Linked DNA regions of Homo sapiens: all the other regions are reported to be linked to region 2. Evidence: microRNA targets listed by miRTarBase, many of them from high-throughput screens and not tested one by one. Region 2 holds a microRNA gene; each other region holds the end of a gene's coding sequence.

The links. The annotated mature microRNA hsa-miR-6829-5p reads UGGGCUGCUGAGAAGGGGCA and lies in region 2 at 2,722-2,741, shown strand. An mRNA with a match to its seed (bases 2 to 7 or 8) in the 3' UTR can be bound and repressed. Matches are read on the target gene's strand: a 7mer-m8 pairs with bases 2 to 8, a 7mer-A1 pairs with bases 2 to 7 and ends in A, and an 8mer does both.
Region 1: the mRNA of AKT1S1 is a reported target of hsa-miR-6829-5p. Seed matches in the 3' UTR shown: 7mer-A1 at 4,043-4,049.
Region 3: the mRNA of INAFM1 is a reported target of hsa-miR-6829-5p. Seed matches in the 3' UTR shown: 7mer-A1 at 4,428-4,434.

The regions. Positions count from the first base shown.
Region 1 is chr19:49,866,616-49,873,799 of GRCh38, reverse strand. It overlaps AKT1S1 (AKT1 substrate 1), which reads left to right. Exons shown (of 5, transcript NM_001098633.4): 2 at 498-883; 3 at 1,911-1,988; 4 at 2,084-2,253; 5 at 3,740-4,761. The coding sequence starts at 505. The coding sequence ends at 3,883. PNKP (polynucleotide kinase 3'-phosphatase) reads left to right here and starts at 6,224. Exons shown (of 17, transcript NM_007254.4): 1 at 6,224-6,331; 2 at 6,583-6,746. The coding sequence starts at 6,596. RefSeq lists enhancers at 3,141-3,788, 5,987-6,768, 6,769-7,184 and silencers at 3,704-4,013, 6,088-6,387, 6,458-6,827.
Region 2 is chr3:195,881,112-195,885,111 of GRCh38, reverse strand. It overlaps MIR6829 (microRNA 6829), which reads left to right and starts at 2,717; the gene lies at 2,717-2,783. It overlaps TNK2 (tyrosine kinase non receptor 2), which reads left to right. Exons shown (of 16, transcript NM_001382273.1): 4 at 79-300; 5 at 1,803-1,955; 6 at 2,784-3,061. RefSeq lists an enhancer at 1,326-1,826.
Region 3 is chr19:47,272,775-47,280,062 of GRCh38, reverse strand. INAFM1 (InaF motif containing 1) reads right to left here and starts at 5,178. Exons shown (of 1, transcript NM_178511.6): 1 at 4,340-5,178. The coding sequence starts at 5,143. The coding sequence ends at 4,715. It also overlaps a transcript of CCDC9 not described here. RefSeq lists a cis regulatory region at 1,530-1,667 and silencers at 4,807-5,256, 5,617-5,876, 6,487-6,796.

The DNA of each region.
Region 1 (7,184 bases), not on the chromosome of region 2:
AGGCTGGCTTCGAACTCTTGGGCTCGGTGATCCGCCTGCCTCGGCCTCCCAAAGTGCTGGGGTTGCAGGCCTGAGCCACCACGCCCGGCTCGTTCGGCTTTATTGTACTCAGTCTTCAGAACCCAGTGCAGGTTTTATTGTTAGAGGCCTCTCTGCTAGGACTCTCTGCTAGGACTCCCTGCCTTTCCAGTACTCCCTGTTCACATGTGGCTGGCGGCTCCCACAGAGGCCAGGGCAGGGCCAAAGGGGAAGGAGTACAGTGACTTGGGGCAGGAGGAATGGGTTGGGGCAGAGGACGTCGCCAGGGTCTGGGCCTGCGAGGACTGGATGGTGAGAATCCTGGGGAGTAGCAGGTTTGGGGAGGACACACAGCACCGCTGGGACAAGGTGGGTGGAGGGTGGTGAGTGCCATCCAGGGGACGGGCGGGCACTCTGAGTGGGTGGCGATGATGTAGGCCGCCAAGCCTCAGCCCCCTCTGTCCTGCTCTGGCCCGCAGGGCGCGGATGGCGTCGGGGCGCCCCGAGGAGCTGTGGGAGGCCGTGGTGGGGGCCGCTGAGCGCTTCCGGGCCCGGACTGGCACGGAGCTGGTGCTGCTGACCGCGGCCCCGCCGCCACCACCCCGCCCGGGCCCCTGTGCCTATGCTGCCCATGGTCGAGGAGCCCTGGCGGAGGCAGCGCGCCGTTGCCTCCACGACATCGCACTGGCCCACAGGGCTGCCACTGCTGCTCGGCCTCCTGCGCCCCCACCAGCACCACAGCCACCCAGTCCCACACCCAGCCCACCCCGGCCTACCCTGGCCAGAGAGGACAACGAGGAGGACGAGGATGAGCCCACAGAGACAGAGACCTCCGGGGAGCAGCTGGGCATTAGTGATAATGGAGGTGAGAGGGTGGGGGCAGGGGCGGGTGCGGCCCAGCGCTTGAGGTGCCCGCAGGAGGCTTTGTCGGGGTGGGGGCCTGCTTAGCCCAGAGTACTTCTACAGAAGTGCAGTCTCAGGACCCCAGAGCCAGACAGGCTTGCCTGGGGCTTGCTGTGTGATCTAAAGCCAGTCCCTTCCCTGCTCTGAGCCTTACTGGTCCTGGGGCCAGCTCTGTGCTGGGAGTGGTGGGCACAAGGACACAGAGCAGGCTCGGGCTTTTTTCTCAAGGGGCTCCCGGTCTAGCCAAGGAACTGGAGTCCCGGTGGGGGTTGGGAGGCTCTGGGGCAGGTCATGGGTAGAACCAGAGTCGTTTCCACAACGCCTGGGAGGCCAAGCAGGAGTTAAAGAGTTGTCTGGGATGCAGCCAACATCTGAGGAAGCCAGGGAGGGAGCAGCCAGCTGTTTTGGGGGGAATTTGGGGGTCGGGCACTTCCCGGAGGCTGGACTGTAACGCTAGGGCTTTGCGGAGTTAGTAGGAGTTTGATCAGTCACTAGGAGGTCCTTGTTTGTTGTTATTACCAATGGCAGGCCTCCTCACCATTGCTGGAGAAAACCCGTGTAGGGTGAAGGGCAGGCATCCTGAGTTCAAATCCTGGTGGTGTCCCTTAGTAGCCATGGGACCTCGGGCAAGTGACTTAACTTCTCTGGGCCTCCAGGTCTCCATTTGTGAAACAGAGGTCATAGTCATTGCATGTTTCTCTAAGGCTGTGTTTTGAGTCACATTGTCCCGAACAGATCGTAGAGGTTTCATGTTAGCAGCCCGTTGTGTGCAGCTGAGAGGGTGGCAGATCCATAGAAACTGGGTTGGTTTTTGCCGATGACCAGGCAGGCTGCTAGAGGAAGTTGTTTTTGAGGTGAAGGAAATGGGTCTCAGAAGCTTCAGGGAGGTGGAGGTGGTGGCTGTGGCAGTGGCCGTGGCTGAGGAGGAGGACACATGGAGCATGGCTAGGTGCTGCCTGGCCTGGGCCTCTAACTCAGGTCATCCACAGGGCTCTTTGTGATGGATGAGGACGCCACCCTCCAGGACCTTCCCCCCTTCTGTGAGTCAGACCCCGAGAGTACAGATGGTGAGTGTCCCAGGCTGTTCCCCTCCCGACCTGAGGGCAGGCACACGGCCGACACAAAGGCAGGGACAGAAGCTGAAGTCCACCCTCTCTTTCAGATGGCAGCCTGAGCGAGGAGACCCCCGCCGGCCCCCCCACCTGCTCAGTGCCCCCAGCCTCAGCCCTACCCACACAGCAGTACGCCAAGTCCCTGCCTGTGTCTGTGCCCGTCTGGGGCTTCAAGGAGAAGAGGACAGAGGCGCGGTCATCAGATGAGGAGAATGGGCCGGTGAGGGGCAAATGTGGGGAGGTAGGGAGGGCAGCTGGAAGGGCTCTGAGCCGCCTCCTCCAGGAAGCCCTCCAGCATGGATGCTGCTTTCCACCCATAAGCTAACTGAATCCTCCCCTCAACCTCAAGAGGCGAGTTCTTGGACACGAGCCTTGCAGTTTTAACAATTGCAGCCTTACCATGTGTCCTAGTGCCTTATAGAGAAGGCCTCTCCTTTCCAGGAGCGTCTCTATTTATAGAACACCTGCTCTGGGCAAGGCACAGGTGTTTTGGCATGCCCTCCAGTGGAGAAACTGAGGCTTGGAGGGTTCAGATCACCTCCCATCCCCACCCTGCACATTCCTAGCCCTTTGCAGAATTTGTCCCACCCCCTGGTCCCCTGTTCACCCCTTGTAGCAACCCCTGTTTGAAGCTCCTGGGCTGGGCTCTGCTGGCCTAGGTGGGTCCTCCTCACCCTTCACTGAGCCTCCCTGAAGCAGAGGGGAAACTGAGGCACTGAGGGGACATGTGACTTCCCTGAGAGGCAGAGCTGGGACTGGAACCCAGGTGTGTTTCAGGAAGGAGCTGTGGGCTTTGAGGGAGGAGGCCTGGGTCCCCACAGTCCCCCCCTCAAGCCTCAGTGTCCTTATATGCAAACCAGCAGTCACAGTGGTGACCTTTTCTGTGCATCCTCCCTCAATGAAGCAGTGAGCACTGAAGACCAGGAACAGGGCCTGGTGCGGGCGGGGTCCACCTGCTGCTGCTCTCTGTGCTTGCGACTCATGGCAACACAGTTAATTGAATGCTCTGGCCTCTTGCGTGCTGTGCCCGGGGGCTGGTCTCCCACTGGGCTCAGGTCCAGTTCCTGATCTGGGTCTCCGGGTCCCATCCTGCGAGGGGACAGGCCCAGCTCCGGGTGACGGGGGCTGTAGTGGAGGCAGTACTAGGTGCCAGAACTGCAGGCTCCTTGGCGGGGGCTGACACAGCGAGGGATCTTTTCTGTAGCGCAGTGGCCACATGATAAGGCAGTAACAGCTGATTATCTCAGCCCTCACAGAGACCCTGTTATCCGCCCCATTTTTCAGAAGGGGAGACTGAGGCCTAGGGAAGCAAAACCTCTTGCTCATAGTTTGTCAGCGGCAGAGGTCTGATTGGAACATGACTGAAACCCCAGCCCAGATCCTCAGACATGAGACGGTGCACTCAGCCTTAATGGCTAGCAGGCAACAGCACTTCCACTGTGTAGGAAGCAATGTCCTAGGCCAAGAAGGGGAGAGGGAGAGGGGCAGGTAGGCTTCGTGGAGGAGGTGTCTGAACCGGGTAGAAGGGTTCCTACGTGGAGCAAGACGGGGAGGGGCACTGCTGGCAGTGGGCATCGCAGGGCACAGGTGGCAGGGCAGGGACGTGCTAGAAGTGGGCTTGGAGCCCGGGTGCACCCCTGGACCGCGTGTGGGTGCAGGGGGATTGCCCTGCCGGCGCTGACCTCGCCCCGTCGCCGTCCCCGCAGCCCTCTTCGCCCGACCTGGACCGCATCGCGGCGAGCATGCGCGCGCTGGTGCTGCGAGAGGCCGAGGACACCCAGGTCTTCGGGGACCTGCCACGGCCGCGGCTTAACACCAGCGACTTCCAGAAGCTGAAGCGGAAATATTGAAGTCCAGGGAGGGAGCGCCCCGGGCCGCGTCCGCCCCGTCCCACACTACGCCCCCGCCCCACTCCCGGGGCCTGCTAATCTGAGGCCGATCCGGGACCGGCCTCCTTGCGTCTCCCATTCCCAAGATTGTCCCGCCTCTGCCAATCCCCGCCGTCCTTCCAGCCCACGACCTGCCGCGCCGAGGAGCGGCATCTGTCCCGTTTCCCGATTGGGTCTGTCGTCTCTCTCCGCCTAGCGACAGATTCCTTCTATTAAGGGATTGGCTCGCTGAGTTCTAAGCTCTAAATGGGTCAACTCCTTTGTTTTCCGCCTAGCGACAAGGGATTTGCTCGCACGGCATTGGCTCCATCCCCTAGTCGCTGGACAGCTCTTTTTTTGATTGGCTCAAATCCTGTAAAGGGCTTGACCAGTCTCTACATAGTCACCGTCCGCTTTTCCTGAGTTCTCCCTCCCAATTGGCTCCAGCTTCCTGGGGGCGTGGCCAAGCCCTCCTCTTCCCAGAATTGGCCCGGGGCCTTCAATTTACGTTCTTTACACTACGGGGACTGGGGTCGTCTTTGCCCACGTCCCGACAACTTGTTCCCTGACCCCCTCAGGGATGGCCCCAAACTGTCCCTGCCTCTGGCACCCCCTTTCATTGGTTCCATCCATCCCCACAACAGCCTGCCAATCGAAGCCCGTCCCTGCATCCAGGATGGTACCAGCTCCCGCCCCTCGCCCCCCACCTCCACAGGTGCCTTAAAGGGCCCTCGTCCACCCAAGGTGGGGGGCAGGGGCCCTCACTCTCCGGCCCTGGTGTGGGGGAGAGAGTGAGGGGTTGGGGGATCGGCAGTTGGGAGGGGCGCTCTGAGATTAAAGAGTTTTACCTCTGAGATAAATGTGAAGTGTGTTGTGAGTGTTCATTCAACATTTTCTGAAACCGAATGGCAGCGTCTGATTATCAGTGAATAGCTGGGGGTTGGAATTACTGTGCCCATTTTATTTACTTTTTTGAGACAGGGTCCCACTCTCGCCCAGGTTCAAGCGATTCTCCTGCCTCAACCTCCCGAGTAGCTGGGATTACGCGCCACTGCCGCCCGGGTAATTTTTGTATTTTCAGTAGAAACAGGGTTTCATCATGTTGGTCAGGATGGTCTTGAACTCCTGACCTCAAATGATCCACCCGCCTTGGCCTCCCAAAGTGCTGGGATTACAGGCGTGAGCCACGGCGCCTGGCTTTGTGCCCATTTTATAGATATGAAGACACAGGTTCATGGGGTGGAGGAGAGCATCCCAGTCTTATGTGACCATGGAACCCAATCTTGAGGAGGTGAGTGTTGGAGACAGAGCCCACATATTCACCAGCAAAGCCAGGAACTCCAGCCGGGAGTCTTCTATTATAAAAGGACTGGAGCAACTGGGCTTGGTGCCTCACGCCTATAAGCCCAACACGCTGGGAGGCCAAGGCGGGAGGATCACATGACACCAGGAGGTCGAGATCAGCCTGGGCAGCACAGTGAGACCCCTTCTCCAAAGGGAAAAAAAAATGGCTGGAGGTTAGAAAGCAGGTGGAACCTCGTCCGAAATTAGGACTAGGTAAACGTAGTCCCACCAGACCACTACCGAAAGAATGCTAACACTAAATAAGACTTAAACGGATCTGAGCACTTTGGGAGGCCGAGGTGGGCGGATCACGAGATCAGGAGATCGAGACCGTCCTGGCTAACACGGTGAAACCCCGTCTCTACTCAAAATACAAAAAATTAGCTGGGCGTGGTGGCGGGCGCCTGTAGTCCCAGCTACTCGGGAGGCTGAGACAGGAGAATGGCGTCAACCCGGGAGGCGGAGCTTGCAGGTGAGCCGAGATCGCGCCACTGCACTCCAGCCTGGGCGACAGAGTGAGACTCCGTCTCAAAAAAAAAAAAAAAAAAAGACTTAAACAGGGCTCACTACCACCCATTTTTTAAAGCTTTTGTCACGTGTTAGCTCCTTTAATCGTCATGGTAACCCCACGAAGCGGAAACGATTATCCTTTTTATAGATGAGGAAACTAGAACATCGAGGGTGAAGCCAAAGAAGGACTTAGGGGCGCTGTCGGGGGCGGAGGTTTCCTCGACTGACAATGACCATCAGATGGGAAAAAAATCTTCCTCCCTGGGATGAAAATTAGAAGTCAAGGTGGAAAGAGGCAAATCTGCTAACGGAGGATCCAGTCCCCGCTACCGGCCTGAGCCTCGCGTTGCAGCAAGAGAGATGAAGGTCAGGGCTGCCGAGAGACCCTGGGGGCCGGGAGTCGGGGAAGGGGCGTGGCTGCTGTGGGAGGAGGCCAGGCCCCGCCCCCCACCCACGAGGGGACGAGTCATTTCCGTCCGCCGAGGAACCGACCGCCGCCGGCCGGGTTGCAGGCGGGGCACCTCGGGCAGGACCTCCCTGGTCGGAAGTGGCCGTGAGCCCAAGCCGCGGTCCCGGGTGAGTACGGGGCGGGGCGGAGGCATGTGCGAGGCTCTCTGCCTGTACGCTGGAAAGTGGGGATTGCAACTCGGGGAGGGATGGAGCACGCGTCGTCGCCTGGGAAACGGGTCGACCCGCGGAAGGCGAGCGGGTGGGACTTCCGGAGCAGTTAATGGTGGGGAAACTTTCTAGTGGATGTGGGAGGAGGCGGGACTTCCTGCAGCAAATTGGGGCTGTGCGCCGCTCAAGCCCGTTTACCTGCTCCCCAGGCCGGCACCCAGGATGGGCGAGGTGGAGGCCCCGGGCCGCTTGTGGCTCGAGAGCCCCCCTGGGGGAGCGCCCCCCATCTTCCTGCCCTCGGACGGGCAAGCCCTGGTCCTGGGCAGGGGACCCCTGACCCAGGTTACGGACCGGAAGTGCTCCAGAACTCAAGGTGAGCGGGGCCTGAGCTGGAGGGGGTGTGGCCTGCTGCAAAAGCGGGAACAATCCAGAGGGACGCTTGGCTGCTACGCGGGATTGCAGTGGTGCAGCCAGCCCCGAAGTCGGAAGGTGCTCTCTAGGGAGTACAGGAAGATAAAGTTTGTGCTTGATTTAGAATTAGCTAGATCCTTTGGGGGAGAGGGGATCGAGCCGATTTAGGGAGGATGTTCACTGCGCGGATGATGCTCAGGCCATCGGGAAATCCAGAAACAGGCGACGACCTTCGTCAAGAGAAAAATGATCCTGTGGAGAAAAGTAAATGTCGCTAGGTTGGGATGGATGGTAACAGGCCAAGCCCCGGACCTATATCTAGCCACATTTTTTGTCAAGGAGGAAACCAATTCTGTAGAGAAAAGTACCTCCCTGTCCCTTGCAAGGACCAGTGTCAGGC
Region 2 (4,000 bases):
GTGGACCCAGCGGGGTGGGACTGAGTGACTGACCCTGGGGTGTTGGATTCCATCTGGCCCCCGGCTGCCTTCAAACAGGTGTTCAGTGGAAAGCGACTGGAGGCTGAGTTCCCACCTCATCACTCTCAGAGCACCTTCCGGAAGACCTCGCCCGCCCCTGGGGGCCCAGCAGGGGAGGGGCCCCTGCAGAGCCTCACCTGCCTCATTGGGGAGAAGGACCTGCGCCTCCTGGAGAAGCTGGGTGATGGTTCCTTTGGCGTGGTGCGCAGGGGCGAGTGGGACGCGCCCTCAGGGAAGACGGTGAGCTCTCTGTGTCCTGCCAGCGCAGCAGAGGCATGGGACCCGGGGCTGGTAGTGGCTCTTCTGCCCCCAACCAGGGTGTGGATGGGACTGGGGATGCGTCACAGTGTGGCTCATCCCAGAGTCCGTGCTCAGGATTTTTGGGGTTTTATTTATTTATTTATTTTTGAGATGGAGTCTCGCTCTGTCGCCCAGGCTGGAGTGCAGTAGGCACGATCTCGGCTTCCTGCAACCTCCACTTTCCGGGTTCAAGCAATCCTCCTGCCTCAGCCTCCTGAGTAGCTGGGATTACAGGCATGCACCACCACACTCAGTTAATTTTTGTATTTTTAGTAGAGACGGGGTTTCACCATGTTGGCCAGGCTGGTCTCGAACTCCTGACCTCAGATGATCTGCCCACTTTAGCCTCCCAAAGTGCTTGGATTACAGGTGTGAGCCACCACGTCCAGCCCATGCTCAGGTTTAACTAAGCACATTTATTATTTCAACTATAAAAATAATTTATTATAAAAGTTTGGAAAGTATTTGAAAAACAAGAAAAAAAAAATCGCCTGTAATCCCACCACTCAGAGGAAGCCGAGCCTCTTCCTCCCACTTTAGGTATTTTGTTGGATTTAGTTAAGATACAAATTCTGGATACAGCTTTTAAAATCTTGTTCTTTCTTCTCGGCGTTGCATTTAACATTTTCCCCTCAGGGATAACGTGTCACCACAGCATACAGTTCTGGTGTGACTGTTTCCTGTGCAGCAGCCGTGTCCTTACTGCTCAGATCACGTGCGGTGCATTCCCAGCACCTCAGAGGGCTCCTCATTCTCCGTCCACTCAGTGCGTCCTTCTCCCGGGGAAGCCGCTGTCACTCAGTGCATCCTTCTCCCGGGGAAGCCGCTGTGCAGACTTCCAGCTCCACAGCTTTGTTTTTGGCATTACATTTACAGCATTTTCCTTCTACAGCAAAACACCTTTTAATATTCCATTTTATGACCAGCCTGAGCAATATGGAGAAACCCCATCTCTACTAAAAATACAAAATTAGCCAGGCGTGGTGGCACCTGCCTGTAATCCCAGCTACTCAGGAGGCTGAGGCAGGAGAATCACTTGAACCCGGGAGGCAGAGGTTGCAGTGAGCTGAGATCACGTCACTGCATTCCAGCCTGGGCGACAAGAGCGAGACTGTCTCAAAAAAAAAAATTCCATTTTATAACATTTGAATATTCTCTCATCATACTGGTTATCTCTTACTTTTTGGTTGGTATTTAAGCCCGGCATTCCCCCAGGAAGGGGAGGTGTGGCCGACGATGGCTCCTGAGGGCCAGCCGTCTGCCCTTCTCCAGCCAGGCCTCACGCAGAGCACGTAAGCCCAGGCACTGGTGACATGCTTACCCACCCAGATGAGGAGCTCACAGGCAGGGATCGTTGAGCCGAGTTGGAGGGTGGAGCAGGTTGGCTCCGCGTGTCTGGGACCTGGCAAGTCCTGAGTCCTTGCAAATCCCGCTCTGGGCAGGTGAGTGTGGCTGTGAAGTGCCTGAAGCCCGATGTCCTGAGCCAGCCAGAAGCCATGGACGACTTCATCCGGGAGGTCAATGCCATGCACTCGCTCGACCACCGAAACCTCATCCGCCTCTACGGGGTGGTGCTCACGCCGCCCATGAAGATGGTGAGTACTGCGGGCGGGAGGGGGCGGGCAGGGAGAGGGCTCCGGTCCCATATGTGTGGTTCGGTTCCTCTCTCCATCCTAAGGTCAGAGGCGCCCTAGATCCTACTTTGGTCCCCCAACCTGATGGAGTAAAGGGGTCCACAGGGGCCCAGCCTGGTACGGGCTGTGTCTGCTGCGGTCCAGTCCGGGTCTGTCTCTGGATTTTGCTGGTGCTCAGTGTCAAGAGAGTTACTCCCATGGGAGGGGCTGGCCACTGAGTTTAATTTGGGGAATTTATGTTTTATTTATCTATTTATTTTGAGATGGAGTCTCACTTTGTCGCCCAGGCTGGAGTGCAATGGCATGATCTAGGCTCACTGCAACCTCGGCCTCCTGGGTTCACGCGATATTCCTGCCTCAGGCTTCCAAGTAGCTGGGATTACAGCCGTGCGCTACCATGCCTGGCTAATTTTTGTATTTTTAGTAGAGACGGGGTTTCACCATGTTGGCCAGGCTGGTCTCAAACTCCTGACCTCAAATGATCCACCCACCTCGGCCTCCCAAAGTGCTGGGATTACAGGCGTGAGCCACCACGTCCAGCTGAGTTTTGGAATTTCTAGCCACTGCCTCTTTGGGCTCCTTCTCTCTAGGCATCAGTTTCCCAAATTGCCTCGAGGGAGAGGCCTGAGAAACTGCAGGACTCCTAGAGGTCCCCAGACAGCAGGCCAGGAAGGTGCGTGCAGCCTGGCTCTGGAAAGCCTTCAGGAAGGGGACTGGGGGCCCAGCGTGGGCTGCTGAGAAGGGGCAGGGTCCTCCAGCTCATTCCTCCTGCCTCCTCCGTGGCCTCAGGTGACAGAGCTGGCACCTCTGGGATCGTTGTTGGACCGGCTACGTAAGCACCAGGGCCACTTCCTCCTGGGGACTCTGAGCCGCTACGCTGTGCAGGTGGCTGAGGGCATGGGCTACCTGGAGTCCAAGCGCTTTATTCACCGTGACCTGGCTGCCCGCAATCTGCTGTTGGCTACCCGCGACCTGGTCAAGATCGGGGACTTTGGGCTGATGCGAGCACTACCTCAGAATGACGACCATTACGTCATGCAGGAACATCGCAAGGTGCCCTTCGCCTGGTGAGGGGCAGGTGCTGCCAGCTCACAGAGTCCCTGCAGACCCAGGCCTCAAAGCTTCTGGGGCTTTCTGGACCCACCACAGCCCCTGGTTTTGCTTGGGCCTGCCCTTGTCTGTTCTAAGCCTGGGGTGCCCTCCTTTGCACCCATTCGCTCACCATCCATCTAGGAATTCTTGAGGGCCCACGTGCCAGGGTCTGGGTGCTGGAAATCACAGGGATACATGCTGTGGGACTCTCCAAGGGGCTTTGCTGGGTGGGGTGATACGGGGATAGATGCTGTGTCCTCTCCAAGGGGCATTGTTGGGGGTCGTGTTTCAGGGATAGATCCTGTGTCCTCTCCAAGGGGCATTGCTGGCGGGGGGGTGTTATAGGGATAAATGCTGTGTCCTCTCCAAAGGGCGTTGCTGGGGGGGGGGTGTTACAAGGATAGATGCTGTGTCCTCTTCAAGGGGCATCGCTGGGGGGGTGTTACAGGGATAGATGCTGTGTCCTCTTCAAGGGGCATTGCTGGGGGGGGTGTTACAGGGATAGATGCCGTGTCCTCTCCAAGGGGCGTTGCTGGGGGGGGTGTTAGAGGGACAGATCCTGTGTCCTCTCCAAGGGGCATCGCTGGGGGCGGGTGTTACAGGGATAGATGCTGTGTCCTCTCCAAGGGGCACTGCTGGGGGGGTGTTACAGGGATAGATGCTGTGTCCTCTCCAAGGGGCACTGCTGGGGGGGTGTTAGAGGGACAGATCCTGTGTCCTCTTCAAGGGGCATTGCTGGCGGGTGGTGTTAGAGGGATAGACACTGTGTCCTCTCCAAGGGGCATCGCTGGGGGCGGGTGTTACAGGGATAGACGCTGTGTCCTCTCCAAGGGGCATTGCTGGGGGGGTGTTACAGGGATAGATGCTGTGTCCTCTCCAAGGGGCACTGCTGGGGGGGTGTTACAGGGATAGAT
Region 3 (7,288 bases), not on the chromosome of region 2:
AGATCGCGCCACTGCACTCCAGCCTAGGTGACAGAGTAAGACTGTCTCAAAAAAAAAAAAAAAATTGCATTCTGTGGTCCATGAGGCCCTGATCAAGCTGCCTGTCCTCTCTTGCCTCACCTCCTCCTCTTGCTCTCCCCACTCCCTCTTGCTTCAGCCACTCTGGCCTCTTCGCTATTCCTTCAACAAGCCAGGCACACCACCCCGAAGGTTTTTGCACTTACTGTTCCCTCAGCCCCCAGAGACCTGCCAGCCTCACCCTCACCAGTCTTGGGCTTCTACCCAGTAACCACACCCTCCATCATCCCCATCACCCTTACCCTGCTTTCACTCAAAGTTATGAATCACATTTCTTGTCTTTGTCCCCGCTAATATTTAGTTCCATTAAGAACAGGAATTTTTTTTTTTTTTCTTTGAGACAGAGTCTCACTCTGTCACCCAGGCTGGAATGTAGTGGTGCAACCTTGGCTCACTGCAACTTCCCCATCCTGGATTCAAGCAATTCTCCTGCCTCAGCCTCCCAAGTAGATGTGATTACAGGCACCCACCACCACGCCCAACTAATTTTTGTATTTTTAGTAGAGACGGGGTTTCACCATGTTGGCCAGGCTGGTCTGGAACTCCTGACTTCAGGTGATCCGCCCTCCTAGGTCTCTCAAAGTGCTGGGATTACAGGCATGAGCCACCGCACCCGGCTATTAACTGAATTTCTTGTCTGTGTTCCCACTAATATTCAGTTCCATTGAGAGCAGGAATTTTTTTTTTTTTGAGACAGGGTCTTGCTCTCTTGCCCAGGCTGGAGTGCGGTGGTACAGTCACAGCTCACTGCAACCTTGACCTCCAAGCAATCCTCTCACCTCAGCCTCCCGAGTAGCTGGGACTACAAGGCATGCACCACCATGCCCGGCTAATTTTTGTATTTTTTGTAGAGACAGGATCTCACTATGTTGTTCAGGATGGTCGCAAACTCATGACCTCAAGTGATCCTCCTGCTTTGGCCTCCCAAAGTGCTGGGGTTACAGGCATGAGCCATCACGCCCAGCCGAGAGCAGGAATTTTTGCCTGTTTTATTCACTCCTGTGTCTCCAGTGTTTAAAATAAGCTTTGGCACACAGCAGATGCTCAAAAAATAATTGTGGGTTTTGGGTGGGTTGTTTTTTTAGTTTTTTAGAGACAGGATCTTGCTGTTTCCCAGGCTGGAGTGAAGTAGTGCAATCATAGCTCACTGCAGCCTCGACCTCCTGGACTCAAGCAATCCTCTCCTCTCAGCCTCCTGAGTAGTTGGGACTACAGGCATGCACCACCACACCCAGCTAATTTTTTAATTTTTTGTCCAGATGAAGTCTTGCTGTGTTACACAGACTGGTCTCTAACTTCTGGCCTCAAGTGATCCTCTGGCTTTGGCCTCCCAAAGTGCTGAGATTACAAGCAAGAACCACTGTGCCCAGCCTCAAAAAATATTTGTTAAAAGGAAGATTAAACAATGGAGACCAAAAGAGAAACCAAGAGAAATAGGAGGAGAAAAGGAAGAGATAAAGGGAAGGAGACAGGGGACACTGAGACTAGGGACCTGGAAGCTGTGGGGTGCGGGGGCAGGGGAAGGGGAGCAAGGTGGAAGAAAGTGTTGGGGTAAGATAAGTGTGGAGGAGAGAAGAAAGAGAATCAGCTGGGGCTGGGCACAGTGTCTCACGCCTGTAATCCCAGCACTTTGGGAGGCCGAGGCGGGAAGCTCACTTGAGGTCAGGAGTTCAAGACTAGCCTGGCCACTCTGGTGAAACCCTCTCTCTATTAAAAATACAAAAATTATACGGGCATGGTGGTGGGCGCCTGTAATCCCACCGCCACTGCACTCCAGCCTGGGTAATAGAGCAAGACTCCATCTAAAAAAAAAAAAAAAAAAAAAAGAACGAGCTGGGGACAGAGAGCAATAGGGAGGACACAGAATGAGCAGAATGAGTCAGAGACATACAGAGTGGGAGAGAGAAACAATACCAAGAGACACCAGAGAGATAAACAGGACACAGAAAGACTGAGACGCAGAGAGACAAACACAGAAAGAGAAAAGAGCCAGGACACACAGCAACAAGGAAACGAAAGAGTAGGAAAAAATGGGGCTGGGAGAAGAGAGATGAAAACCAAAGAGAGGGGGGCCAGTGGGAACCGAAATGGAGAGGCCCCTCCCTCAAACTCACCATTTGCTGGTGGCCAGGGCTTTGGACTGACTTGCTATCCCCAGAGGATCCCAGCTGGGGCTTTTAAACCCTGAGGGACAGAGGTGGTGGAGAGAGAGAACATGTGACATCGTTCTCAGGGCTTGAGATCACCAGTTTATTTATTCCTCAGAGCAAGTCTATGAAGAAGTACCATTAGCATCTTCATTCTACAGAACCACAGAGGCAGGGCCAGGCACAGTGGCTCATGCCTATAATTCCAGGGCTTTGGGAAGCCAAGGTAGGAAAATCACTTAAGCCCAGGAGTTCAAGACCAGCCTGGCTAACATAGTGTGAAACCCCATTTCTATTAAACAAACAAACAAAAAATGCTTAAAAATTTTAAATAAGTTATAAGGCTGGGTGCAGTGGCTCACGCCTGTAATCCCAGCACTTTGGGAGGCCAAAGTGGGCAAATCACCTTAGGTCAGGAATTTGAGACCAGCCTGACCAACATGATGAAACCTCGTCTCTACTAAAAATACAAAAATTAGCCAGGCGTGGTGGCGGGCGCCTGTAATCCCAGCTACTCAGGAGGCTGAAGCAGGAGAATGGCATGAACCCAGGAGGCGGAGCTTGCAGTGAGCCGACATTGCACCACTGCACTCCAGCCTGAGCGACAGAGCAAGACTCCGTCTCAAAAGAAAAAAAAAAAAAAGAAACAGAGGCCGGGTGTGGTGGCTCATGCCTGTAATCCCAGAATTTTGGGAGGCCCAAGTGGGCAAATCACGAGGTCAGGAGTTCGAGACCAGCCTGGCCAACATGGTGAAACCGCGTCTCTACTAAAAAATACAAAAATTAGCCAGGCGTGGTGGCAGGGGCCTTAATCCCAGCTACTTGAGAGGCAGAGACAGGAGAATTGTTTGAACCTGGGAGGTGGAGGTTGCAGTGAGCAGAGATCGAGCCATTGCACTCAAGCGTGGGGGACAAGAGTGAGACTTCTCTCAAAATAAAAATAATAAAAAATAAAAATACAAAAAAAAAATTAGCTGGGTGTGGTGGTGGGCACCTGTAATCCCAGCTACTCAGGAGGTTGAGGCAGGAGACTCACCTGAACCAGAAGGCGGAGGTTGCAGTGAGCAAGATCATGCCACTGCACTCCAGCCTGGGCAACAGTGCAAGACTCCATCTCAAAAAAAAAAAAAAAGAAACACAGAGGTCAAGTGACCTGCCCAAAGTCACACAGTTTGTAATGAGAGGAGCTGGAATTTGAACCCGAGTAGTCTCGCCCCAGTCAGTGCCCCTAACTATCACCTATGCTGACTACAAAGAAGTGCTGGCTTCCTAGATTCCCCTTCACAACCACCCTCTGGGGAGTGGTGGTGGGGTAAAGGGGAGGTGAGCAGAGCAGCTGACCTTCCTAACCACCTCCACAGATCTCCAGGAGCCACAGCGTGGGAGAAGATGCTCAGCCTCACTCTCCTGGGAAGGCCTCCAGCTCAAGCGGGGAGGCTGGACAGGAACCAGCTTCCTGCATGTCAGATCCCAGGCCCTGTCCAGAGCCAGGCCTCAGTCTTCCAGGATGGAACATGGCCTCCCCACCTCGGACTCCTTGCCCAGAAGCTAGACCTCAGTTTCCCGGCCTTGGTTTCCTAGCAGCGCCCCAGGCCAGAGGCTGCACCAGTCTTCCAAGGCAGCACAGCGCTTTGGTCATTGGCTCTGAGATTTCCAGACAGGCTGAGAAGCAACACCACCGCCGCCGCCATCCACTCTCATCTCTCTGACCCCAGGAAGTGGGCCAGCATCGTTCCCTCTCGGCAGCCAACTGAGATCCCTGGGTGATTCAGCCTCTGTCCCTGACATGATAATTACACCAACAGCAATTCCCAGAACCCCAGCTATTGTCCTATATCACCCCACCCCTCCTCTTGTCTCCTGTGCTGTAACACGAGGGCAGACACTCTGCTTCTCCCCAGAGACATTTGTCCTTTGCTCCAAGCACACAAAAAACTGGGAAGCCCTTCCCACTGTCTGACCTTCAAAGGCCCTGCTGCTGCTAAGCTGCTTCTCCCTACTCCAAGAAAAGAAGAGCTCCTTAAGGAAGGGGAACAGCCCACCCGGGACAAAACAGACAAAGGCCACACCCCAGGAAGGTCTTTCCCACACAAACTTGGGAGGGGAGGCATCTCTGCAGACAACAGGACAGACACAGCACGAGGCAGCCGAGGCTGTCGTTTATTGCAGATGGACACGGATTCAGGGAGGTGAAGAGGCAGATGGGCTGTGGGCTCTGTGCTCAGCATCCCACAGCAGGAGGGGCAGGAGACAGAGCTCAGGATGGGATCTTCCTGATGGTGGAGGACCCGGCCTGACCACAGAGTAGCTGCAAGAGGCAAGGCCCCGAGCTGACACCCCCTGGGCCCCCATTCCGCGGGATGACGGCTCCAGAGACGCTGAGCGATGTCATTAGGAAGAAGGCCGGACCAATCCAGAGACGGTGCATCCTCGGCGTGGAGCACAGAGCTCTCGAGGGCTGGCGATCCGGGTTGGGGTGGAAGGGAGAGTTACCCGGGTCTTCGCCCCTCCGCGGCCTCTGGCGTCTCTCTGGGTGTCTGGCGGCTCGGACGGCGGTCAGGGTCGCTGTAGCGGCGGCGGCGGCTCAGCGGCAGCTGGAGCTGGGGTCGCGGCCCGCCGGGGACTCCCAGGAGGCAGGAGAGGGAGGCAGCGGCGGGCGCCGGGACAGGCGGCACGCCCGGGCGGGCAGCACACGGAGGGGACGGCGCGCTGGGCTGTGGGCCGGCGGGTGCCGCGGGAGACCGCGTGGGTACCCAGATGAGACCGTAGTACACGGCGAGCAGCACGGCAGCTAGCGAGACGCAGAGGAAGTAGGCGCATACCGGAGCCAAGCGCAGCCAGCGCCCCCGCGGGCCCTCGCTCAGCCCCGCGCCTCCGGGGCTCTCGGCGCCGCCGCCCACGCAGCTGGTCCCCCGCATCCCCGCAGCCCACTCGGCTCCGCGCCGCAGACCGCACAGGCCCCGCCCCCACCAGGCCCCGCCCCCACCCCGCAGACCGCCCCGCTCTCTAAACCGCCCGCCTCCGGCCCCGCCCCCGCCAGCATGGTCACGCCCCCACGCGAGCTGCCGCCTCCGCATCCTAGGCCCACCCCCTCCAGCCTCCGCCCCACCACCGACAGGCGGAGGTGCTACCCCGCCCCCCTCGCTCCAGCCCCGCCCCCGCGCTTAGCCCCACCACCCCAATCACCGCCTCCTCCCGCCACAACACGGTTCTCTTCCCAGACTCGGACTTCATCCAGCCCAGGCATCTAGCCCGCCTCGGAGCCCGCCCCCTCGTCCCGCTCAAGCCCTGCCTGGAGCCCTAACCCGCCCTGTGCCGCAGCCAGTCTCACTTCTCTACCTGTCGGACTGCTCTACTCCAGTGCTCGAGCCCTGCCCGCTACGGCCTCTGGCTCCCACACTCTAGTTCCGGAATCCCCGCTCTCCTCCCGCGCGGGTTCCCGCGCGACACCCCGACCACGCCCCCGCTGACGGCCCCGCCCCATGCCCATGGCCAGAGCCCCACCCGCGCGCGCTGACCCCGCCCCCCGCTCTAACTCCGCCTGTCAGGATTCCGGCCCCGCCCAGGCAGCCTAGCTCCGCCCCCGCGGGACCCGCCTCCTCCAGCACACTCTCAGCCCGCTTTCAGGTATCCTCAGCACCTCAGGCCCCGAGGTTCCAGCTCCGCCCCTCACCGCAATCGCGCCCCTTCTCCCAGCTCCTCCCCAACGGTCAGCTTTTCCCTCTCCCTAGAGCCAAGGGGTCCAGACTAGGCTCTGGGGTAGAAAGAACACAGCCTGGAAATCCAGATAAACCCCTCCTCACGCCCCCTCCCCATCAAGGCGGGGAAGCTTCAGTCCCCTCCCAGCAGCGTCTTCAGGAATTCGGGGAGGCCTGCGGGAGGGGGGAGGGAAGACGGATCAGAAGGGTGGAGGAAGACCCCTTCCTTCCGCCTCTTCCGCCACAGAAAAGCCCGCCAAGCACAGCGACCCAGCCTGCCCCCTCCAGAAACACAGTTCAAGGGTGAGCGGAAGCACTGCGTTTAATACGACAGGGCTGGCGCCCGAGTAATTCAAGCCCTTCGGAAGTGTCACCGGCTGCCAGGCCTCGGATGCAATCCTGGAGGCGGGAGATTCGGCCTGAAGACTGGCTCGAGCCGCCCAGGGCCTCCATGGGAGACTAACGCGGAAGCGTCCCAGCCGTCCCAGTGCCGTGACGTCCCCCGTTGGTGGGGCCTGCACCCGACTACTGCCCTGGCCCCGCCCGGCTCGCAGACCCTGGCTCCTCCCCCCTTAGATTTAACCCTCTCCTGGCTGGAGTGTGGCAGAAGCAGAGGACAGAGGAGCGAGGCGGTGGGAGGTTAGTGCAGAGCGCGGAGGCCGCGGTCCGGCGGGCGCGGTCAGCGAGCGGCCCCCGGCAGCGGAGGGGCCGCCACCACCTTGCAGAAACGCACCCTCTGGAAGTCGGTGATCTCCGCCGTCTCCTGGCCTTCGGGGCCTGCCTCTGAGGAGAGAAGGGGCTGAGTCAGCGGAGGGGAGCAGTCTTCCCACCTCCCCCCCGGCCCAGCACCCCTCCCCCGTCTAGCCACGTCTCTCATCCAGTTCGAGCCCTTGCCACAGCAGGCTCGGCGCTAAGCGGTTTACGGGGCCCAGACTAATCCTCTCAGCGGACCCACGCAGCAGCAAACACTCCCAACATAACCGTTTACAATCGAGGAAACGCGGGTGTGGCGAGATCTGGCTCCCGACCAACAAGTGGCCCAAGACAGAGGGTCTGGGCCCCCGCGCCACCCAAGGCTGCAAACTGTCCTCTCCCACCCCCGCCCCATCTCACGGCCTTCATCAACCTCCACCAAGCCAGTCCTAGAGGACCCGCCCTCCCCTTTCCTTCGCCAACGCCTGCTATTCTAACCAGTCCTTCCTTGGCTCTGCCCCCAAAATCCTAATCCCACTCTGGGGGAAGGGGAGGCCATCTGAGATTCGAAATCTTACTCCTACGGAGTGTAGGTGGAGAGGGGCTTGGCCTCTTGCTCGCACTTCGTCGGTCCCAAAATGCTGATCGGGTACGCATGTCTATTCTAATTTG